Homo sapiens: one gene and its partners. The protein of the gene in region 1 purifies or fractionates together with the protein of each later gene. This does not show direct contact. Each region holds a gene or a part of one and is shown in the gene's direction. Other genes may lie near its edges. The genes, in order: ATP2B2, TNPO3, GOLGA5, PIGN, PIGO, HSD17B6 and BTBD9.

Evidence for each region.
Region 2: the proteins of ATP2B2 (region 1) and TNPO3 purify together in Homo sapiens (affinity purification with mass spectrometry; 2 studies listed by BioGRID and IntAct, with this or other methods). This does not show direct contact.
Region 3: the proteins of ATP2B2 (region 1) and GOLGA5 purify together in Homo sapiens (affinity purification with mass spectrometry; 2 studies listed by BioGRID and IntAct, with this or other methods). This does not show direct contact.
Region 4: the proteins of ATP2B2 (region 1) and PIGN purify together in Homo sapiens (affinity purification with mass spectrometry; 2 studies listed by BioGRID and IntAct, with this or other methods). This does not show direct contact.
Region 5: the proteins of ATP2B2 (region 1) and PIGO purify together in Homo sapiens (affinity purification with mass spectrometry; 2 studies listed by BioGRID and IntAct, with this or other methods). This does not show direct contact.
Region 6: the proteins of ATP2B2 (region 1) and HSD17B6 purify together in Homo sapiens (affinity purification with mass spectrometry; 3 studies listed by BioGRID and IntAct, with this or other methods). This does not show direct contact.
Region 7: the proteins of ATP2B2 (region 1) and BTBD9 purify together in Homo sapiens (affinity purification with mass spectrometry; 2 studies listed by BioGRID and IntAct, with this or other methods). This does not show direct contact.

What each region holds. Positions count from the first base shown.
Region 1 is NC_000003.12:10,495,587-10,499,086, reverse strand, and holds part of ATP2B2 (plasma membrane calcium-transporting ATPase 2), read left to right. Parts: intron 1-3,500. UniProt on the Homo sapiens protein: ATP-driven Ca(2+) ion pump involved in the maintenance of basal intracellular Ca(2+) levels in specialized cells of cerebellar circuit and vestibular and cochlear systems.
Region 2 is NC_000007.14:128,999,612-129,003,111, reverse strand, and holds part of TNPO3 (transportin-3), read left to right. Parts: intron 1-1,877; coding exon 1,878-2,053; intron 2,054-2,544; coding exon 2,545-2,683; intron 2,684-3,500. UniProt on the Homo sapiens protein: Importin, which transports target proteins into the nucleus. Specifically mediates the nuclear import of splicing factor serine/arginine (SR) proteins, such as RBM4, SFRS1 and SFRS2, by recognizing phosphorylated SR domains.
Region 3 is NC_000014.9:92,832,305-92,835,804, forward strand, and holds part of GOLGA5 (golgin subfamily A member 5), read left to right. Parts: intron 1-817; coding exon 818-1,043; intron 1,044-3,254; coding exon 3,255-3,360; intron 3,361-3,500. UniProt on the Homo sapiens protein: Involved in maintaining Golgi structure. Stimulates the formation of Golgi stacks and ribbons. Involved in intra-Golgi retrograde transport.
Region 4 is NC_000018.10:62,156,057-62,159,556, reverse strand, and holds part of PIGN (GPI ethanolamine phosphate transferase 1), read left to right. Parts: intron 1-1,748; coding exon 1,749-1,870; intron 1,871-2,329; coding exon 2,330-2,428; intron 2,429-3,500.
Region 5 is NC_000009.12:35,090,890-35,093,591, reverse strand, and holds part of PIGO (GPI ethanolamine phosphate transferase 3, catalytic subunit), read left to right. Parts: intron 1-11; coding exon 12-171; intron 172-382; coding exon 383-562; intron 563-824; coding exon 825-2,352; intron 2,353-2,702.
Region 6 is NC_000012.12:56,783,824-56,787,323, forward strand, and holds part of HSD17B6 (17-beta-hydroxysteroid dehydrogenase type 6 precursor), read left to right. Parts: intron 1-1,029; coding exon 1,030-1,193; intron 1,194-2,078; coding exon of another isoform or gene 2,079-2,122; exon of another isoform or gene 2,123-2,191; intron 2,192-3,301; coding exon 3,302-3,500. UniProt on the Homo sapiens protein: NAD-dependent oxidoreductase with broad substrate specificity that shows both oxidative and reductive activity (in vitro). Has 17-beta-hydroxysteroid dehydrogenase activity towards various steroids (in vitro).
Region 7 is NC_000006.12:38,587,930-38,591,429, reverse strand, and holds part of BTBD9 (BTB/POZ domain-containing protein 9), read left to right. Parts: intron 1-3,500.

The sequences.
Region 1 (3,500 bases):
TGTTTACTACTGTGTGACCTTGGGCAGGTAGCTTTGCTTCTCTGAGCTTGACATCCTGATATGCAAAGTGGAGTGGGAAAAACCTGCCTCACAAGATTGTGCCACGAGATGATGGGTAGGTAATGTCTCAAATGGAACCCTCATCATGCCAGGCATTCGAAATATGTTGAGCTTCTGCCCTGCTTGTGGGCATCTTAAAGATGTCCCCAGAAGGGGCACATCCTAGTCCAAGGAGGGTGGATTTGATTTGGGAAAATTGGGAGCAGTCGTGCCATAGTGGAGCATATGGGATTGGTGGAGCCTATGGGAGAAGCAGTGAATGGATGACACCGTTTGGGGTCCAAGCACCATGTAGCTTTGAAGGAAGAAAGCAGGTCTCTGCAAGCTTCTGTGCTGCCTCTGAAGGCAGTTTCCTATAAAGTGGTGCCTTTCCTGTGCCGGCTGGGCTACTCTACCGGGCCATGTCTGGCTGCCCCGGGACCATTTTGTGGGAGCCATGGGGGCGTCATCTGGATGAACTCATTCTAGCCCAGCTCTGTCAAACACCTGCCTTGCAGGCCCAAGGGAGCTGTGGAGGCAGTGGGCGGGGAATGCTGTGGCAGCCATTTGGGGTGCCTCCTGCATGCCTGAGGCATCCACGCTGAGTGAGGCCCCCAGGCTCATCCGGAGCAGAGGGTGCTGGCCTCCAGCTCACTGATCCTTCTGAAGTTTTTTGATCTGTGCCCATGGGCAGGGCACGCCATCCTACGTGGGCCTGACTTAGCGTTGATGTAGCGCAGTAGTTGAGGACAACATCTGGGCCCAGGCTGCTTGGGGTCACATCCAATGCCTGGCCGCTGACCAGCTGCATGTCCTTAATCTCCAAGCCTCCGTTCCCTCCACTGTCAAATGGAGATGACAACACTGCCTGCCTCATCAGGCCGTTGTGTCGGAGACTGAACTGTGCGGATTCCAAGATATACATTTTGACATTTCTGAAGCCAGGTTGTGCCTGACAACTGGTGTTACACCACAGTGGAACCAGCCATGCCTTTTATTTCTTAAATATACGTAAAGTAGTGATACAGGTTAGAGTCAAGAAAATATGATAAATAAGATCAGTTTTATAAGGGGCTCAGAACAGAGCCACCAGGCTGGTGGGAAGAAGCCAGGATTGCCACCTGCCTCCCCAGCTCAGTTGCGGTGAGTCCCTCACTGGGTCCTTTGTGTCCACTCTGAAACAATCAGCAAAAGAACACCTGCTTGCCGGAGCAGCTGTGAGAAGTCGGCAAACTTTTGTGTGTATTACGTGACCAGCAGAGTCCCCATATGCAGTAGGTGCTTAATAAATGGCCGTGCAAAACAAACAGCAAAGACCGTAGTACAAGGAGGAATTTAAAGCATAGACTCTGGGATTCTAATTCCTGCTCCACCATTTCCATGCTGTGTGACCCAGCACAAGTTTCTTAATTTCTCTGTGCCTTAGTCCCACCATCTGTAAAATGGGGATAACAAAAGTGTCCAATTCATAGGATTGTTGTGAGGATTAAGTAAAATTAAAGTGCTTAGGACAGCCCTTGGCAGAAGTGTAAGCAATTATTATTTGATGAACTTTAATGAGTCTCTTCTAGTTCAATAAATGATACTAAAATAAACACTAGGCTCAATAAAATAATAGCAGTTGAGGCTGCACTTGCTTTATAGCTGAGAAAACCAAGGGCCAAGAGGCATGCTGGTTTGCCCAGGATCACACAGCCAGCTCCCAGCAGACTGGAACCACAGCCCAATGTCCAGGCACCAGCCCAATGCTGCCTCTTTGCCCATGTTGGTTCAGGACTCTTTCTCTTATGGAGAAAGCAGTTCTTGCCATGGAGAGGAGGGTTTCTAGAAGAAGCCACCAGCAGATACATCACCAGTGCTTCAGGGATCCACAGGGTAATTAGGGCCCTCATTAGAAGTCGTTTCTGTCTTCCCTCAATTTTCTGCCTGACCACCACAAACAGTGGAAGGGGCCTAACTGGGATGCCCACCCTGCCCACAGCTGCCCAAGGTCAGCAGAGCCTGCCAACCATCCTGCAAGCCCACCAGCCAGCACTCTCCTGGCCTCCAAGTGGCTTCTGCAGAGTTGACACAGCAAAATTCCCTCCTGGAGACAGCAAAAGCCGTGGCTGGCCCGTTGGTCCAGCCACCAGACAGGCTAGGGCCACAAAGTGGATTGGAGTTGGGGGGAGGACAAAGACCTGGGTGCAGCCAGCCATGACAAGCACTTCAAGTGACCTTGGACAAGTCACAGTCTCTTTCTGAGCATCAGTTTCCCATCTTTGAAACAAGCCTTTTGGAGCCAGATGGGCCCCCTGAGACTTTAAATGTCTAAAATTCGAAGCTGCCTGGACATTGCTGATGTCCAGGTCACGGGGGAAGGGGCGGGGTTGGAGGGGTGGAGCTAGTGTCTGCGTGTGGAGTGCAATGTGTGTGGATCTTGGGTTGGACTCACTAGGAGCAAGCATGAGACAGCGCTCAGGAGAAAGGGGCTGAAAGGAAACAAGGTAGGGAGAGAAAGAGATAAACAAGCGTGTGGCCTCAGCTGATCCCTTGGGGGATGTGGGGCATGAACTGCGCCCCAGGTTTGGCTCTGCCTTGAAGCAAAAAAGCTGGCCTTTCATACCCCATATCAGATAGTTATTGGCCACGGCTGCCTTCTGAGTGGGATGCTGTGTGCAATTGCCCGGGCAGGAGCTCCTGTTCTTCCCAGGGCAAGCCTGCAAAGAAGGGGCAGCCGGGAGCTCTAGCTCCCAGCAGCTGGGGTGTGGAAGCTGCAGACCGGTAAGGAGGACTAGGGTGGGCACCAACAGTGTCCACTCTGTTATGTGGATTTGGGATGCAAAGGTTGCTGGGTGCCAGTCTCTTCCTAGCAACTATCTGAAGGCAGCAGATTAAGAGCTCTTTAGGCCACTTCTAAATTTATCAACTTACATGACTCACTTCAGATTAAAATGAAGCCCTTCTCCCCATCCCACCCCCAGCCAATTTCAGATTTCTGAGCTCAGAGCATCCTGAAGAGGGCATAGAATGCAAATCAATAAAACCAGTATTAGCTAAGTATTTGGTGTGGACCAGGCTGTTTGTCGGGCTCCTTGCTGAGCTCAGAGATGAATCAGCTCCAGAAACAACTCCTGCTGGGAGGCGGAGGCAGCCCCAGGTAGAAGGTGGTATACGACTGCGGGTGCCCTGCCTGGGGGCTAGGCCATGAATAACTTCCAGGACCAAGACTCAGCCTCACCACCACAGTATTTAGAGCTTCCAGAGCCTCAGTTTCCTTATCTACAAAATGGGGTCAGTGTGGTGAAGAGTATGTGGCCTGGGCCACTCCTGCACTCAGGGAGTAGCAATAAAATTAAGCGAGACCTGGCACTGGGACCCAGGGCTGTTTCTAGGCACTTCTCTGCCCTCTCAGAGGCCTGAGTCTGCCCCATGACCTCAGGGGAAGGAAATTCTGAGCTGAGTGGAGACATCAGCTTCCC
Region 2 (3,500 bases), on another chromosome or scaffold:
AGCTGGGACTACAGGTGTGTGCCACCACACCTGGCTAATTTTTTGTATTTTTTTTTTTTTTTTTTTTTTTTTGAGAGGGAGTCTCGCTCTGTCGCCGGGGCTGGAGTGCAGTGGCGCCATCTTGGCTCACTGCAAGCTCTGCATCCTGGGTTCATGCCATTCTCCTGCCTCAGCCTCCTCAGTAGCTGGGACTACAGGAACCTGACACCACGCCCGGCTAATTTTTTGTATTTTTAGTAGAGATGGGGTTTCACCGTGGTCTCGATCTCCTGACCTCGTGATCTACCGGCCTCAGCCTCCCAAAGTGCTGGGATTACAGGCGTGAGCCACCGCGCCCGGCCAATTTTTTGTATTTTTAGTAGAGACAGGGTTTCACTGTGTTAGCCAGGATGGTCTCGATCTCCTGACCTTGTGATCTGCCCACCTTGGCCTCCCAAAGTGCTGGGATTACAGGTGTGAGCCACCATGCCCAGCTCGAACACTGACTTTTTATAACTTGGTAATATAATGAGAATCTTTGAACCTACTATTCAATCTAAGAATACCTAATAAATAATTTGCATCTTTGTGCTCTCCCAAACCTGCTTATATACCTTTTTGTCCCACTGGAGATTTTAAATATCCTTTTAAAAAAATTATTCAAGGAAGACTAATACGCCCTTACTAAGTGTATTCAACCTCTCAACTGTACTCTCTTCACTAGAAACCCGGGAGGATTCCCTTCTTGGACCTTTTGGTCTGCTCTGATTTGCATCAGTTGTTCTTTAGATCTACTCCCTGTCATCTTGGGACTTGTCTTTACTGTGCTTTCTGGATTAGGTTAGCTGTTTCTCAAACCCCCTCAAATAACTTCTTCAGAAAAGATATAATGGAAAGTAAACTTGGAATTTTTGCATGCCTGAGAACTATTTTTATTTTGCTTTCGATCTTGATTGATGGCTCAGCTAGGTATTAAGTTGTAGGCTGAATATTATTTTCCTTCAAAATTTCAAAGGCCTTGCTCTCCTTTACTAGCATGCATCATTGTTAATGAAAAGTCAGAGAACTCTGAATTCTGCTCCTTACTATTACCTCCTCCTCTCTTCCCCTGAAATTTTACAGACCTTTGTTTAACTCTGGTATTCTGAAATTTCACAATGATGTGTTTAGGTATGTGTCTTTGATACTTGTTGAGCCCTTTCATTTTAGGTAGTACTTGAGTATCAGAAAAAGGATGGAAAAGATTTTTCACACACTAGAATAGGGTAGGGAACACATGGCTTTCCATTTGGAGGGGCTGGTGTGAACAAGAACATGGAGATTAGAAATGATACGACCATGACTTCGGGACAGAAAGGCTGATTTGCTTGACATATAAGGAAATAGAAATAAGATTGGGAAGATTGATGGATGTTGTCTCATGGAAGGCTATGACTTGACTGTTACACATTTAAAGTACATGTTCAGAAAGAGGCTATAATTGAAAGAAAGAAAGAGGCTCTAATTGTTTTCCTATTACATTTATCCATCACTATCTTCAAAGGATTGGTTCCAGGACCACCCACTACCCCTGCCCCTCTGTGCACAGTTTCCAAGAGATGCAGATGCCCAAGTCCCTTATATAAAATGGTGCAGTATTTGCATATAACCTATCCACATCTTCCCATATACTCTAAATCACCTGTAAATTACTTATAATACCTAATACAATGTAAATGCTATGTAAATAGTTGCTATAGGGTAATTTTTAAATTTGTGTTTTTCATTGTATTATTATTTACTTATATTTTGAATATTTTCTATCGATGGTTGATTGAACCCTAGGGTGTGCAGGGCCAACTGTAGATCACTCCTTAGTGATCATACTTCTTGCTTCCCTATTCCTGCTACCTCCCCAGCAACAGGATAAGACCTCGTCTAACCTACATGAAGCTGCTTCGGACTGTGTATGCTCAGCTCTCTATGCCATTGAGAATGTGGAGACTAACTTGCCATTAGCCATGCAACTTTTTCAGGGAGTGCTGACATTGGAGACTGCCTATCATATGGCCGTGGCACGTGAAGATTTAGACAAGTGAGTAATTGTTTAAGTCTGGAGCCCTGGGTTTACCTACAGTCTGGTCATTCTTTTAAGTCACTTTTTATTATTCGTCTGTCATTTGTGATTCTCAGTGATTCTGTAAAGTACAGATAGTGCTTCCTAAAGATGCTCTACTATGCTCTTCTGAACCTAGAGTGGCAAATTGGGTGCAGGGTTTGTAGAATTACCATAGAAAGGTAAGGCTTTAAAAGTTGGAGACAAATTTTAAAATATCAAGTGTGATTTGATGGGAGTTTTTATTCAAATGTTTTAATAATTGAGAATTTGAACTGACAAGTCACTTGCGTAGGAGTGTACGATCTAGGTAAAGGTGTCTGTCATGGGGATTGTGATACAGCATAGTAAATAATCACTAGATGTCCCTTAGACTGAGGAACCTTTTATTTATTTGATTAACTGTGCCTGTATATACTTATAATATCCAGATTTCTGACTCATTGTTCTCATTCCCCTGTCTTCTACAGAGTTCTGAATTACTGCCGTATTTTCACTGAACTATGTGAAACTTTTCTTGAAAAAATTGTTTGTACTCCAGGCCAAGGTCTTGGGGACCTTCGAACTCTGGAGCTGCTGCTTATCTGTGCAGGCCATCCTCAATATGAGGTAGTGTTTATGCTATTCAAAGGCCATTATTCTCCAAGTTGTGTGCTGCATATTATCTATATTTCATTACCTCGTGCCCAAATTTTTATTGTTGAGAAATTACAGTCTTGTTTTTAATTAATGTGATTTCATCTGTTTTGGAATTTTTTAAAAAAATTATATTTGGGTTTCTGCATTGTGTCCATTTCTGTTTTCTTACCTGGTTGGCTGGGCTGTTGTAGGCCCCTCAAGGAACTCGTTAGAAAGCAAGCCTTTCCAATGAACCCCTTGTCTAGCTTGACTTATTCTCTAGAGTGTTACAGCTAAAAAACACCAAATTCTAACTATACCTCCACAAGTCTTAACACCCCCAATTTTTCTCCAAATGATGGATGAGAATGACAAAGGGATTGAAAGGACTTAAGGGTCTCTGTCATTCAGAATCCTTGACATCCTACTTACCGAGGTTTGCTAGATTTTTTAAAATCTCATTTATTTGAGAAGTTTTACCTCTTTATAGTATAAGAAATGAGAAAGGGTCGGGGTTGGTGGCTCACACCTGTAATCCCAGCATTTTGGGAGGCCGAGGTGGGCAGATCACCTGAGGTCAGGAGTTTGAGACCAGCCTGGCCAACATGGTGAAACCCTGTCTCCACTAAAAATATAAAAATTAGTCAGGCGTGGTGGCTCACACCTGTAATATCCCAGCTACTTGGGAGGCTGAGGCAGGAGAATTGCTTGAACCTGGGAGGCAGAGGTTGTAGTGAGCTGAGATCGGGCCACTGCACTCCAGCCTGGGAGACGAGCGAAACTCCGTCTCAAAAAAAAAAAAAAAAGT
Region 3 (3,500 bases), on another chromosome or scaffold:
AATTTGTGGGGAGTGCTGTAAGGGATTTATAAGAAAGAAAGGCAGGTGGAGCCTAGATAAGAGAAGGGGATTGAGTTTCCAAACAGAGGAAACGTGGCCGGCATAGCGGAGGCTGGAGGAGAGTAGAGGGAGATGGAGACAGATAAGACCAGATGGAAGATGGAATGAAGGAAGTCGTTAAGTATCAACTTTCAGCCAGAGTCTCCTAGGACAACTATCATTTACTGTCCCTAAATACCATGTGCAACGGGTGCTGTCATCTTCACTAACAGATGAGGAAACAGATTCAGAGAAGTATAGCAATTAACCTGAAGTCAAATAGCTTGAAAATTGCAGAGCAGAGATGAAAACCTCAGAGTGTGATCTTTGCACTGCACCGTAACTGTTGAATGACGGAGGCTTTTGAATCCCTGTTGAAAAGTGTGGATTGTGTCCTCTAAACCCATGCTTTGAAATACTTTGACCATGACGCCTCAGTGAGAAAAACAGTTTACATCGTGTCTCAGTACTGACATGCACTTACATGTACCAAACTGAAACAGGAGTTTCACAAAATTATACTTTTATATATACTATATGTTACATAAATATCAGAATATGTCCCATTCTATTACATTTTCTAAAATGCTGATTTTGACCCACCAAATTGATTTCATGACCCCAGTTTTTGAAAATCACTTTTGTAGACATTGAGTCAGTATAGAGTTTTGAGAAATCAATGAATGCCACAATTTACCTATGAAAATGTAGTAGTGTGATTTCTGTATTGTATGACTTTCATTTTATGTAAGAATTTTGTGAACACTTTCTCTTTCAGCTTACCAATAAAACTTTAAGCAATAGCAGTCAGTCTGAGTTAGAAAATCGACTCCATCAGCTAACAGAGACTCTCATCCAGAAACAGACCATGCTGGAGAGTCTCAGCACAGAAAAGAACTCCCTGGTCTTTCAACTGGAGCGCCTCGAACAGCAGATGAACTCCGCCTCTGGAAGTAGTAGTAATGGGTCTTCGATTAATATGTCTGGAATTGACAATGGTGAAGGTAATCAAAAAAGGAATCTCAAAAGAACATTTCATTCAAACATGCTTTTGAAAAGTTATAGAAGGACTATTTTTATTTGAAAGAAACTTCATCCAGTGAAGGACTCAATTTTCTGATATGAGACCTGGGCCACGTACTGTTTAGTATTGTTAGTGAACCGGATAATGGACTAATTAATATTCCTCACCAGTATTAGACTTGGGGAAAGTAGTCTGAGGATTGATAATTATATTGTAATGTCTGAGACACTTAACAAGATGATGCTGACAAGGCGAGGAATTCAGTAGAGAGGAGCTTTCAGGACACTTGAAACAAGATTTGCTTTAATAATCTTCCAGTAAATAGTTACGGGTATTAGAGCTAATACATAGTTCACATAACCATATCTAAAGAAATCTATAGATTCCCAACATATGTAATTAAAAAATAATGTGTAAGATAGTATAAGCATCAACAGATCAGATTTTTAATCTTGGAACTTCGTAAAGTCTACAAATTGTCATTCAGCAAATTTCTCAGTTCTTTGGCTTTAAATTATTTCTTTTAATAAAAAAAATTGTTTAAGAGACGCTGGGTGCCAGGTATGGGGATGGCACTGTAATTTAAAAAGGGTGATCAGGAAGACCTCGTTGAAAAGTGTCACTTCTTTTTTTTTTTTAATGTATAATTATCATTTTATTTGTAATTGTTAATTACAAGTAAAAATGAAATTATAAATAAGTAAATCATACTCCTTAATGGCATAAATAAAAAGTGCCTCGCTTAAATTAATAAAATTTTCCTGACCATAACTTCTGTGATTTTTTTAAGGGTTTTCAGTTTCTTTTAGGTTTCACCTTTTTTTTTTTATTTTATTTTTTTATTATTATTATACTTTAAGTTTTAGGGTACATGTGCACAATGTGCAGGTTAGTTACATATGTATACATGTGCCATGCTGGTGTGCTGCACCCATTAACTCGTCATTTAGCATTAGGTCTATCTCCTAATACTATCCCTCCTCCCCCCTCCCCCAGCCCCACAACAGTCCCCAGAGTGTGATGTTCCCCTTCCTGTGTCCATGTGTTCTCATTGTTCAATTCCCACCTATGAGTGAGAACATACGGTGAAAAGTGTCACTTCTTTAAAGTCCCAAAGGAGGTAAGATAGTGAACAATGAGGAGGCATAGAAAAAAAGTGTTCCAGGCAGAAAGAAGAGCAGGCACAAAGGCCTTGAGGCAGGCATGTTCCTGGCATATTTCAGGAACAGCAAGGAGGCCAAGGCCTCTGGAGTAGACTGAGTGAAGAAGACACTTGTGTAAGATGAATCCAGAGAGCTTAGAATAGGCCGTTGAGGCCTGTATGGGGACTTTTACTCTGAATGAGGTAGGAAGCCATTGAAGGATCTTGAGAGGGGGGACTGATCTGACTTGCACCTTAATAGGCTGCCTCTGACTGCCATGTCAAGAATAGACTGCACAGGGCTAAAAGTGGAAGCAGGGAGACAGGGCAAGAGGAGGCCGGAGGTGGGTGGGTAGCCATTGCATTAATCCATGTGAGAGATGGTAGTCTAGAACTGAGTGGGATTGTGAAGGTGGACTGAGAATTTATTTTAAAGGTAAGCTGACAGAATATGTTGGCAGATGAGATACGGAGTTTGAGAGAAAGAAGTCAAGAGTTTTGGCCTGAGCAGATGGAAGGATTGGAATTGTGATGTCCTGAGACAGGGAAATGGCAGCTGAGGCAGGTTGACAGCGAGGACAAGAACTCTGAATTGTAGTGTTAGGCAGGCTTTGGGGTGCCCGTTAGATATCTGGATGGAAGCGAATAGGCAGTTGGATGAGTCTGGCAGGGGATGAAGCCTCTGGGCTGGAGTACACATTTGGGAGTCCTCTGCTTCATAGAAAGACCACCCGGCCTCACTCCTCCTCACATAGGAACAAAGGGCCCATTAATATTGACTCTTGTCAACGCTTAGTATTTGTAAATTTCTTAATTTTTGCTAAAATCATTTTCTTATTTAAAACTTTTTTCTTGTTGTGGATATGGATGTTTAAATATTTATGTCATCAAATTTACCTGTCCTTTCTTTATAGTTTCATCTACTTTGGGGTGATGCTTAGAAAGTTGCCCTTGAAAATTCCTTCCACATGTAATACAGTGTATTTCCAATTATAATTGTCTTAGTTAATTTTTATGTCAGTACACTAATTTATTTTCTTATTTAAACAGGCACTCGTCTGCGAAATGTTCCTGTTCTTTTTAATGACACAGAAACTAATCTGGCAGGAATGTACGGAAAAGTTCGCAAAGCTGCTAGTTCAATTGATCAGTTTAGGTAAGCAATGCCAGTAGGGATGAGTGATGGACCATCAGCTGTTTTTACGTTTTTCAGGGTTTCAATCACAGTGACTCCCATCAGGCAGAGTCTATATTTAAAGTGACTTACTCCTTTCAAGATATTTTATACTTATATAC
Region 4 (3,500 bases), on another chromosome or scaffold:
TAAGTACAGTACACAAAAATCTGTAACAAATTTCTAGAAATAATTAAAGTATTTGGGTGAATTTCTTAGTTGCCAAAGGAAAGAGAGAAATATACTTCATTTCAAAATTAAGAGGATAAAAATATACTGGTAAAATAAAGTCAAGCTTTTCTGGTGGCACTTGTTTCTCCTTTGGATCTTACTAACGGAAGCTCTGTGGGCTCAAACAGTTGATGTTTTGTGTTGTGTGCCATTGTATATTTACAATGTCAGGAATCTTCTAGCTTCTTCTAAGCCTGTTTTTGAAAGGTTTTTTGTTGTTGTTATTTGTTTTGAGAGGGAGTCTCACTCTGTCGCCCAGGCTGGAGTGCAATGGTGCAATCTTGGCTCACTGCAACATCTGCCTCCCAGGTTCAAGCGATTCTCCTGCCTCAGCCTCCTGAGTAGCTGGGATTACAGGCACGTGCCACCACGCCCGGCTAATTTTTGTACCTTTGGTAGAGACGGGGTTTCACCATGTTGACCAGGCTGGTTTCGAACTCCTGACCTCCACCTGCCTCAGCTTCCCAAAGTGCTGGGATTACAGGCGTGAGCCACCGCATCTGGCCCAAAATTTGTTTTATAAAAACGTGATCTAAACTAATGTTTTTAAATACAGTATCTAAACTAATGCTTTTAAATAGAGTATCCACATTTCTTTATACCTCCCCTTTCTGTTTAAGTCCAGTTTTCATTATATAACTCAAGAAGTTAAAGAATATTTCTCGTTAATATTTGGTCCAGTGGTTTTGAAACTGTTTACTTATTATGAATGTATTTCACCAAAACTGCTTTTATTATTAGGTAAGTCAATAGTAAAAGAACTGACACCAGTAGTTATAAATATTTTTCTTTAGAATGTATTGAGAGGCAGATATTTATCTTGAAAAATGTTATTGTTGAGTTTACTATTTTATAACTTATTGCTCTGCTGGCCTTTCACCTATAATAGCACCACTTGTAGTTTTGCTTTCTTCCCCAAATTTTGCAAATCACTGTGGATACAACTTAAATAATGTTGACATCTTTTAGCAAAATAATCTTTTTGCCTGTTTTAATCTCAAATTTGGGGATATAATTTAACTCCTAATTAGGAGTGTAGCCATTTTCCCTCCCCTTAGTTTTTTAAGAATTTTTCAACTAAACAAATTTGAAAGGATTATTTGATGAACATCTGTATACCCTTTACCTAGTATGACAATTTTAACCTTTTTTCATAATTGCGTTCACCCTCTCCTGGCCCCTCTGCCACCTGCACCACAGGGGTACCCATGTATGTCCATCTAGTTATAATTATTTTTTCCTTAACAATTCGAAAGCAAGAAACTTTACCCCAAACACTTCAGCCTATATCTCTTAAATAACCACAATACTATTATCACACCTAATGCAATTTAACATTGATATAATAATATATGTTTTATCTCTGGATAACAAACCATCTCTGTTTTGTGGCTTAAAACAACAATCATGTATTTTGTTTCATGATTCTGTGCAGTGGTTGAATGGTTCTTTGTTTGGTCTTACATCAGCAAATTCATGCTGCTGCATTCAGCTGGTAGATGCTAGGAATGGGCTCACCTGGAATTTGAAAAATTCCTTTCCTTCTTAAGTTTTGACTTAAGTTTTTTGCTTTTGATTCCTTCTGTAATAATCTTATGTTTCTAAAGCTTTATGTGAGAGTATCTAATCATAGTCTGTGTTAACTATTTGTCTTTAATATCTTTTAGGAATATCATAATGCATGAAGGCAGCTGGGGCATATCTCATACACGTGTGCCAACAGAATCTCGGCCAGGTCATGTAGCTCTGATAGCTGGGTTTTATGAAGATGTCAGTGCAGTTGCCAAAGGTATTGTCTATTTGGACAATCTTATGAAATGAAAAATTTGTCAAGTAAATATTAGTCCTTTACCACTTAATCATGTCACAAAGTGAAGGTATGTTTTGAGATATTTTGGACAAATGTTTTAGCATGCTTTGCTGACATGAATACCCACTGGTACTGACTCCAGAATTGAAACTTTAGTATTTCATTATCCTGTGTTATTGAAAGAATTTGGGTTGGATGGAAGCATAATTTTCCTAGATATTACTCTTGAAAGTTCAAAAATAATTTTATATTTCATTAAGAAGTAAATTATCTATTGTTAGTTTTTTTTTAAATAGTGGTATAATATGCATAATATAAAATCTATTAGTTTTGCATTTATTCACTGACTAATGTAATTGTTATTATTTGAAGAATAGTTCTTTAGGGGCTTATTGTACCATGTGTATATAACTATTACTGCTTGCTTGCTTTCTGAAGGATGGAAGGAAAATCCTGTAGAGTTTGATTCTCTTTTTAATGAAAGTAAATACACATGGAGCTGGGGAAGCCCAGATATCCTGCCTATGTTTGCCAAAGGTAAGAGTCACTGATTATGTTTCCTCAGATAGTAAATAGGGAGTAAGTCAATATGGTAGTTTTCTATTTTTATGTATGTAATGTATGTGTTGATTTTTACACATATTTTTACATTTTTAACATTTCTGAAATAGGGATGTTTAATTACAGTATTTTTTTTTCCTTCTTAGTTATACTTGAGATATTGGCACATCATACAGTTAGATAGTATTTTGGATTCAATTAAGTGGTATATAGCACTATCGCTTAACAGCTATATAATCTTGAGCAATTTATATAACCTCTCTGAGCTTCAATTTCCTTTTCATAAAATGTGATAATATTAGTTTCTGTCTCATAGATTTATTTTTATAATTAAATTATGTAATTCATGTGAAATATTTAGCATAGCACTTTTCACATAACTTGATTATAAATGATGATGTTGAGGTGTGGTTCATTATACTTTGGTAAATTATTTTAAAAGTTAGTAGCTACTCATATAAAGATTTAAACATTGGCTGGGCACAGTGGCTCACACCTGTAATCTCAGCATTTTGGGAGGCTGAGGCAGGTGGATCACTTGAGCTCAGGAGTTGGAGACCAGTCTGGGCAACAAGGTGAGACCCACATCTCTACAACAAACAAAAAATTAGCTGAGTGTGGTGGCATGTGCCTGTAGTCCCAACTACTCAGGTGGCTGAGGTGGGAAGAGTGCTTGAGAGCCTGGGATGTTGAGGCTGCAGTGAGCCATGATTATGCCACTGCACTCCAGCCTGGGCAACAGAGCAACACCCTATCTCAAAAAAAATATTTAAGTGTTAAAATATATAGTTATAATTCCTGTTTTAATACATCGAAGATGCCATATATTCTGGCATTTGATATATATGGCATTTAACATATAATTTATTTAAATTGATATTTAATATACTGAATGTAGCATTTAGATTTATTGTTTATATGCATGATTCTGCAAATATTGGGACATCTCTTAATTAGAAAATTCATTTATATTATTTTCTAAAATCAGTTGGATGAATTTCATGTCATTAAATGCTTTTAAGTGGGAGCAGAAAGATTGATCATTTCA
Region 5 (2,702 bases), on another chromosome or scaffold:
TTGGCCCCCAGGGGACTTGTGGAGCGTCTGGAGAATGACACACTGCTGGTAGTGGCTGGGGACCATGGGATGACCACAAATGGAGACCATGGAGGGGACAGTGAGCTGGAGGTCTCAGCTGCTCTCTTTCTGTATAGCCCCACAGCAGTCTTCCCCAGCACCCCACCAGAGGTGAGGCCTGGGATGTTCCTCATCTGTTCTCCCAGTAATCAGCCCATGTTACCATTACAGCATCCTCATGAATACCTCTATTTTAGGCCCCCAAATCCATGATCCTGGGTATCCTCCACTCTCATTTCTTACCTAGGCCCCTATGTCTGCCATCCCAAACATTGACTTCAGCTTTGTGATGAATCTGTTGACCACTGTCATTTTCCTTTAGGAGCCAGAGGTGATTCCTCAAGTTAGCCTTGTGCCCACGCTGGCCCTGCTGCTGGGCCTGCCCATCCCATTTGGGAATATCGGGGAAGTGATGGCTGAGCTATTCTCAGGGGGTGAGGACTCCCAGCCCCACTCCTCTGCTTTAGCCCAAGCCTCAGCTCTCCATCTCAATGCTCAGCAGGTAGGTAAGCGGGCTGGGTTTCCAGGTGACAGAGCTAGGGTGGGCATGAAAGAAGCATAATGAACCACTCTTTTGTCCTTTGACTAGTCTTAGTCCCACCTTCCATACCTATCCCTCTTCCGTTATCCCTCCCTTCCCCGATTCTGGACAGAGTTTGGGTCCTTGACTTCCAGGTACCCCCTTTTGTAATACCTATTCTTGCCTCTGCCCCAATTTATGTCTCTGACCTGTTCCCCTTGGCCTCTGACCTTTTCTCTGCCAGGTGTCCCGATTTCTTCATACCTACTCAGCTGCTACTCAGGACCTTCAAGCTAAGGAGCTTCATCAGCTGCAGAACCTCTTCTCCAAGGCCTCTGCTGACTACCAGTGGCTTCTCCAGAGCCCCAAGGGGGCTGAGGCGACACTGCCGACTGTGATTGCTGAGCTGCAGCAGTTCCTGCGGGGAGCTCGGGCCATGTGCATCGAGTCTTGGGCTCGTTTCTCTCTGGTCCGCATGGCGGGGGGTACTGCTCTCTTGGCTGCTTCCTGCTTTATCTGCCTGCTGGCATCTCAGTGGGCAATATCCCCAGGCTTTCCATTCTGCCCTCTACTCCTGACACCTGTGGCCTGGGGCCTGGTTGGGGCCATAGCGTATGCTGGACTCCTGGGAACTATTGAGCTGAAGCTAGATCTAGTGCTTCTAGGGGCTGTGGCTGCAGTGAGCTCATTCCTCCCTTTTCTGTGGAAAGCCTGGGCTGGCTGGGGGTCCAAGAGGCCCCTGGCAACCCTGTTTCCCATCCCTGGGCCCGTCCTGTTACTCCTGCTGTTTCGCTTGGCTGTGTTCTTCTCTGATAGTTTTGTTGTAGCTGAGGCCAGGGCCACCCCCTTCCTTTTGGGCTCATTCATCCTGCTCCTGGTTGTCCAGCTTCACTGGGAGGGCCAGCTGCTTCCACCTAAGCTACTCACAATGCCCCGCCTTGGCACTTCAGCCACAACAAACCCCCCACGGCACAATGGTGCATATGCCCTGAGGCTTGGAATTGGGTTGCTTTTATGTACAAGGCTAGCTGGGCTTTTTCATCGTTGCCCTGAAGAGACACCTGTTTGCCACTCCTCTCCCTGGCTGAGTCCTCTGGCATCCATGGTGGGTGGTCGAGCCAAGAATTTGTGGTATGGAGCTTGTGTGGCGGCGCTGGTGGCCCTGTTAGCTGCCGTGCGCTTGTGGCTTCGCCGCTATGGTAATCTCAAGAGCCCCGAGCCACCCATGCTCTTTGTGCGCTGGGGACTGCCCCTAATGGCATTGGGTACTGCTGCCTACTGGGCATTGGCGTCGGGGGCAGATGAGGCTCCCCCCCGTCTCCGGGTCCTGGTCTCTGGGGCATCCATGGTGCTGCCTCGGGCTGTAGCAGGGCTGGCTGCTTCAGGGCTCGCGCTGCTGCTCTGGAAGCCTGTGACAGTGCTGGTGAAGGCTGGGGCAGGCGCTCCAAGGACCAGGACTGTCCTCACTCCCTTCTCAGGCCCCCCCACTTCTCAAGCTGACTTGGATTATGTGGTCCCTCAAATCTACCGACACATGCAGGAGGAGTTCCGGGGCCGGTTAGAGAGGACCAAATCTCAGGGTCCCCTGACTGTGGCTGCTTATCAGTTGGGGAGTGTCTACTCAGCTGCTATGGTCACAGCCCTCACCCTGTTGGCCTTCCCACTTCTGCTGTTGCATGCGGAGCGCATCAGCCTTGTGTTCCTGCTTCTGTTTCTGCAGAGCTTCCTTCTCCTACATCTGCTTGCTGCTGGGATACCCGTCACCACCCCTGGTAAATATCTCAGCTCTGATTCACTTAAAGACAATAGTGATGTGAGTTCGGCCCCTCTTGTTTTCAAGGAGGTGTTGCTCCTCATGTTCCTGAGCTTGACAGAGGGTCCCATGCCCCACACAACTAGGAAGGTCTTCTTGGTGTCCTCTCTCTTACCTGCCATAGCCAAGCAAATTGATCCCTCCTGTTGGTTCCCAGGGTTCATGGAGAGGAGAGACAAGGAGTCCTCTAAGACTCCCTGTGGAAATGCTGCATCCTCATGAGCACATTTCTTGATTTTCCAGTGATGGAAGTAGTAAATTGTGAATATATAATGGCACTGAGCTGTATGTGTTTGAGAGAAAGAAAGA
Region 6 (3,500 bases), on another chromosome or scaffold:
CCACCTCCCTCCCGGAGGGGGTGGCTGCCGGGCGGAGACGCTCCTCACTTCCCAGACGGGGTGGCAGCCAGGTGGAGGGGCTCCTCACTTCTCAAACGGGGCGGTTGCCAGGCGGAGGGTCTCCTCACTTCTCAGACGGGGCAGCCGGGCAGAGATGCTCCTCACCTCCCAGACGGGGTCGCGGCTGGGCCGAGGCGCTCCTCACATCCCAGACGGGGTGGCGGGGCAGAGGCGCTCCCCACATCTCAGACGATGGGCAGCCGGGCAGAGACGCTCCTCACTTCCTAGATGGGATGGCGGCCGGGAAGAGGTGCTCCTCACTTCCTAGATGGGATGGCGGCTGGGCAGAGACGCTCCTCACTTTCCAGACTGGGCAGCCAGGCAGAGGGGCTCCTCACATCCCAGATGATGGGTGGCCAGGCAGAGACGCTCCTCACTTCCCAGACGGGGTGGCAGCCGGGCAGAGGCTGCAATCTCGGCATTTTGGGAGGCCAAGGCAGGCGGCTGGGAGGTGGAGGTTGTAGCGAGCCGAGATCACGCCACTGCACTCCAGCCTGGGCACCATTGAGCACTGAGTGAACGAGACTCCGTCTGCAATCCCGGCACCTTGGGAGGCCAAGGCTGGCGGATCACTCGCGGTTAGGAGCTGGAGACCGGCCCGGCCAACACAGTGAAACCCCGTCTCCACCAAAAAAATACGAAAACCAGTCAGGCATGGTGGTGCATGCCTGCAATCGCAGGCACTTGGCAGGCTGAGGCAGGAGAATCAGGCAGGGAGGTTGCAGTGAGCCGAGATGGCAGCAGTACAGTCCAGCTTCCGCTCGGCATCAGAGGGAGACCATGGAAAGAGAGGGAGAGGGAGACCGTGGGGAGAGGGAGACGAGGGAGAGGGAGAGGGAGAGGGAGATTTCTTTATTCTTTAAAATATTCAGTAAAGGTATTTTATAATCTTTTTTGTTTTGCTTTTCCTTCCTGAAAGCATTGAAATGGTGGTGGTCTTTAATCATAACTTGTGGGGTTTTATTTCAGGCGTGAGATTCAACATTTTGGGGTGAAAATCAGCATAGTTGAACCTGGCTACTTCAGAACGGGAATGACAAACATGACACAGTCCTTAGAGCGAATGAAGCAAAGTTGGAAAGAAGCCCCCAAGCATATTAAGGAGACCTATGGACAGCAGTATTTTGATGCCCGTAAGCTTTTTTCTTTTGATAGGGATAATGGGTACCCTGTATTAGTCCATTCTCATGCTGCTATGAAGAAATAACTGAGACTGGGTAATTTATAAAGAAAAGAGGTTTAATTGACTCACAGTTCTGCATGGCTGGGGAGTCCTCAGGAAACTTATAATCATGGCAGAAGGCACCTCTTCACAGGATGGCAGGAGAGGGAATGAGTGCAAGCAGAGGAAAGCCCCTTATGAAACCATCAGATCTTGTGAGAACTCACTACTAAAAGAACAGCATATGGGAACCACCCCCATGATTCAGTACCTCCCACCAGGTCCCTCCCACGACATGTGGAGATTATGGGACTATAATTCAAGATGAGTTGGGTGGGGACACAAAGCCAAACCATATCAGTACCCTTGCATGAGAAGGGGAAAAGAGGGTTGGTGGACAATGATTGGCAGATCCTCTCAGGACAAAGCTCCTTAAATAAAGCATTCCCAGAACAGAAGGAAGTCAGGAAGGTCCCAGTGGTCTCATGGTTGGCTTGGTCTGATGACTATCATGGTTGAGGAGGGGGACATATAGGCGGCCTGGGGCCAGGCTCTTCCCTGCCTTGTCCTCTGTGGGCCAGGGCACCTGAGCACTAGGAGGTATTACATACTTAGAGGCATGGACCCTTGAGAGGGTGTGCCCCTTGGTAGCATTGCAGGGCTGGTGTGAGATGTCTGCTCAACTAAAGTGCAGTCTTCATCATTGTTTACCTTTTGATAACAAAGGGCTTGTCCACAAACTATGTGTCTTAATGTGACAGGAGAAAGCATGTAGGTGGGAAGAGGTAAGTCAGTGAGGATAAGTCTTTGCAGAGCCCTATGGGCCATTCCCTGAGGCTATATTTCTCTTGTTCAGGTGATAGGAGCTTTGTGGGAGTGGGATTTGTCAATTTCCTATAAGAATATTATTCTGAAGACCTGGAGGAGGAGGTAGCAGCAGCGGTGAAAAATGGGAATGACTTCTAATAGGTACAGGGTTTCTTTTTGGGATGATGAAAATGTTCTAAATGTAGATTGTGATGATGATTGCACAACTCTGAATATACTAAAAATTATTGATTTGTACACTTTAAATGGCTGAATTTTATGATATATGAATATCTCAATAATGTTAAAAAAATTTCCAGTTGAAAAAGTATATTCCCATATCTGTGTTGTTCTAAACCTATTTAAAAATCCTCTAGTAACAGAATTAAGTTGTGTGTTTTTTTTTTTTTTTTTTGAGACAGAGTCTCGCTCTGTCACCCAGGCTGGAGTGCAGTGGCGTGATCTTGGCTCACTGCAACCTCTGCCTCCCGGGTTCAAGCAATTCTCTTGTCTCAGCTTCCTGAGTAACTGGGACTACAGGCATGCACCACCAAGCCTGGCTAATTTTTGTATTTTTAGTAGACATGGGGTTTCACCATGTTGGCCATGCCGGTCTCGAACTCCTGACCCCAAATTATCCACCCACCTCGGCCTCCCAAAGTGCTGGGATTACAGGCATGAGCCACTGCACCCAGCCATCAGAATTGAGTTTTGAGGCCAGGCGTGGTGCCTCACACCTATAATTCCAGCACTTTGGGAGGCTGATGTGGGAGGATCGCTTGAGCCCAGGAATTCAAGACCAGCCTGGGCAACATAGTGAGACCTTGTGTCTACAAAAAATAAACAAAATTAGCTGGGCATGGGGATGCGAACCTGTAGTCCCAGCTATGTGGGAAGCTGAGGAGGGAGGATCACGAGCCTGGGAGGCAGAGGTTGCAGTGAGCTGAGATTGTACCACTACACTCCAACCTGGGTGACAGAGCAAGACCCTGTCTCAAAAGAAACCCCAAAAAACAACCAAACAAAAAAAGAAAAATGATTGAGTTTTAAAATTAAAATTAAATAAAATCCAAAATTTAGTTTTTATTCCAGTGCATTAGCTATTGTTTAAGTGCTCAATAGCTACATGTGGCTAGTGGCTATCATATTGGGATGCACATTCTAGATCATTCTATTTTGTAGAAATTAGATGTGGTGAGACTTCTGTGACTGCATGATCTTAAAAATATAAGGAATAAGATTGTTGACCACCATTTCTTTTTTTGTATACAGTTTACAATATCATGAAGGAAGGGCTGTTGAATTGTAGCACAAACCTGAACCTGGTCACTGACTGCATGGAACATGCTCTGACATCGGTGCATCCGCGAACTCGATATTCAGCTGGCTGGGATGCTAAATTTTTCTTCATCCCTCTATCTTATTTACCTACATCACTGGCAGACTACATTTTGACTAGATCTTGGCCCAA
Region 7 (3,500 bases), on another chromosome or scaffold:
GAACTTCAGAAGAAGTGGCTTGGTATGGTTGAGGGAGATTTCATGGAGGTTATGAAGCTTGAGTTGAGCCTTGACATTTGATTTGAATAGTATAAGAGTTGGGTGAATTTCAGATGGGAAGAATCATGAGGTTAATAGACAGAGGTTAGAGCATTTGAAGAGACCATAAATAGAAGAGCTTGATTAGAGTAGAAGGCTTTTATTGATTAATAGCAAAGAAACTATGTGAAGGTCAGCTTAGGCCAGTTTATGGAAGTCTTGGAAACTAGATTGGAATCTCCCTTACATGCAGTGAGGAACCAATTTGAGAGAGGGAGAGTGGCATGCATGCAGTGGTGGTTTTGAAAGACTGATCCATAGTGCTGTATTTGAGTATTTAGAATAGGGGAAAACTGATTCAGAGAGACCAGTGAGGAGAGTATTTAATCTGTGCACAATTGATACTACCTCAAACCAGATTGGTGGCAGGGAAAATGGAAAATAATGGATGATTAGAACGGATACAATGGAAAAAAATAGATCTTGATGATTCAAGGGATATAAATGTGGGGATTAAGTTTAGGAGAAAGTTACCATTTGTTATCAAATCTAAGAAGCCAGAAATTCTCAGGCACCATTATTTTATGTTCCACTAAGAAAAGAAACAATACTGCCAATTAACTGTGACACACTATGATGTCTACACTGCGATTTCAGAAATTTAAAAATTTGAACACTAGGTATGTCTGTAATGAAATACAGTACAGTACTTCTTTGAAGAAGATGCTGAGCTTGATTTTTAGATTGAGTTTGAGGGTTTTGGGGTTGCAAGTTGTAACTTCTGTCCCAAACTAGTCATTTCCCTGAGTTATCTCTTCTTGACTATGCCTTTAAACATTCTCTTGAAATACTGATTGATCTTAAATAGATGTTCTTAACAGAATTCTCTCCTGACTTATCAGGTCTAGATTTCTTTTCACTGGGCATAGGAGAAGAAACATAGGTTTTGGCCCAGACAAATTTGACTTCAAATCCTGAATTAGTCACTTACTAGTTGTACAATCTGGTATTAAATTATTTAAGGAATTTTACCTTTTATATCTCCTAGCATTGTTATGAGACTTAATTAAAATAATGTGTGCAAGCTCAATATAGGAAACCATTGTTACCATATATCATTATGATGTGTTTTTTTTTCTGTGTATATCTGTGTGAGAATTACCACCTTGATCACATTGTTTTAAACATTTTTGTTTACTTGTCTTTGATCCTTGAAGGCAGAGATGATCTTTATAGGCCTTATTGATCTCTATATCCTCAACATTTAACACACCAAATAGCATATAATGGGTAATTGGTGAATGCTTGGTGAATGCTTAGTGAATGAATGCAGGGAGAAATGTCTAATAGGAAATAGGAACACATTACTCTTTAGGACCAGTCAAAGCTGGTGATAAAAGAGTTGAAACCTGAGCTGCTAGAGTATAGAAAAAGAAGTAAAAAACAAAGTCTGAAACTTGGAGAAAACCTATTGCCAGGGGACTTAAGGTAGAGAAGGAAGAAGGAAGACATTTGGGATAGAATAGAGTTACAGAGGACAACCGGAGGAGAGAGCTTTCCTATGGATCCAATGGTCAATGGTAGCTCACGATAGGGAGGTCAAGAAAATTGAGAGACAACTTTTGGATATAAATTGTGATTAGTTGATAAGTAATCTGGACAGAAGATTGGCTGCCAGGGAATTAGGCCATGGATGTTTGAAAAGATAATAGAGATAACATATTGTCTGTCTGATTTGTGAATTGGATTGTAAGGTAGTAAAAAAATAGTATGGTAGCTAGAGAGATCAGGTTGGGAGAGGTCCAGGAAGAAATCAGAGGTGCTAGAGAATGGTACTAGTTAAGTGTCAGCCTTGGATAAAGTGTGGGAGGATGGCAAGTGAAGAGGTAGTAAGATGAGTAATTAGTGTTAGGCTTTTCAAATTATCATGTCGGATCCTGTCTTATATAAGTTCCTTTCCCTCTCTTGCCCTGCATTTGATTTGAAGTGCTGAAAAGGCCCTAGAACTGGATTCATTATAGGGATAATCTTGGGACATGTTTGCAGGAGTGAGGATTTGTTTTGGACATTTCACATGGTTACTGGTAGTTTGGAATTGATCAACTGGTCAGTATAAGGGTAGTACCTGGGTTACAAGAAACTCAGGAGATGAGTTGCGAAAGGGAGAACTTAGCCAGTTGAGTCACTCAGTTCTGGAATGACACATACACAGATTGTTGTTCATCAATGTTAAATTCTTCACTTTGAAGTGAATGAGGGGGAGCTCAAGGAAGAGACTATGTAAATGTTTGGGAATCCTTTATCTAACTTCTGAACTTGAGTAATGATTAAGTAAGTCTGTTTTTCCTGACTTTTAAAGCATGTGAATAATAAAATCAATAATATAAATACAAGGAAGCATTACACTTCCCTGTCAGACCCTGAAAAGATAGGTTTTTTTAATTCAATCATCTTTATTAATCTATCAGTCTTACATTTTATACATGACATCTAGTCGTATTCTAAAAGGGCTCTACTTTTAGTACATCATGTTAATAGCAGAAAGCCAAGTAAGATGACTAAACCTTACACTAGCATTTTAATATCCTCTGGACAAGGGAAGCTAGGTCAATCACTTTACATACATGTAAGAGTAGTGTTCCAAAATAACTAAGAAGTTGCTATATTTTTAAGCAGGGAGGAAAGAACTTTGATTTTGGTCTTTGTGTTCCAGCAAATTATACTTTCAATTAACAGCAACAAAGATATAACAAATGCTCTGCTTTTAAAATTTGTGAACTTCATTACAGATTAAAACAGTACTGGAGTCTTTTGGGAGGCCAATAGCTAGCAGCTACATTAATTGGTGTAGATAAGCCTCGTTATCGATAACCAGGTCCAGGTTTGGTATAGCCCTGACCAAAGGGAGGACATATAAGGATTAGGCCCAGTTGGAGGAGGGGTCATGCTACTTACAGGAAGTGAAGTAAAACTTGATCTTGGTCTATAGGCCCCAGGTTGGCTTGGAGCCATTCTAGGTTGAGAGGCAGGGGCCACAGTATAATTAGTAGGCTGAAAAGTTTGGGTAGTATAAATTTGTGCAGGATAATTGCTTGCCTGGTACTGTGTGGCAGCTGAGCAGGCAGTTGTTGAGGCTGACCAAAAAGGCAGGAGCTGGTGCCTGGGTAGTTGGTTGCTGGCCATATCCTTGGAACTGCTGAGGTTGTTTGGAGTCCAGTCTGCTGACTCTGGCTTTTTGAATACTGAATACCATACTGTTGAGGCTGCTGAGGTAGAGCCCGCAGACACGGTGCACCATAGCTAGCCTGTTGCTGGTACTATTGATACAGCTGACTTTCAGTCTGACCTGCTTGTATCTTAGCTTCTGTATATGGTGGTTGCTGTGGCTGAACTCCTGGTGGGTGAGCTGCTACTGAGGAGGAGGCGGCAATGCTGTCAGATGTTCCTGAACAGTCTTCTGC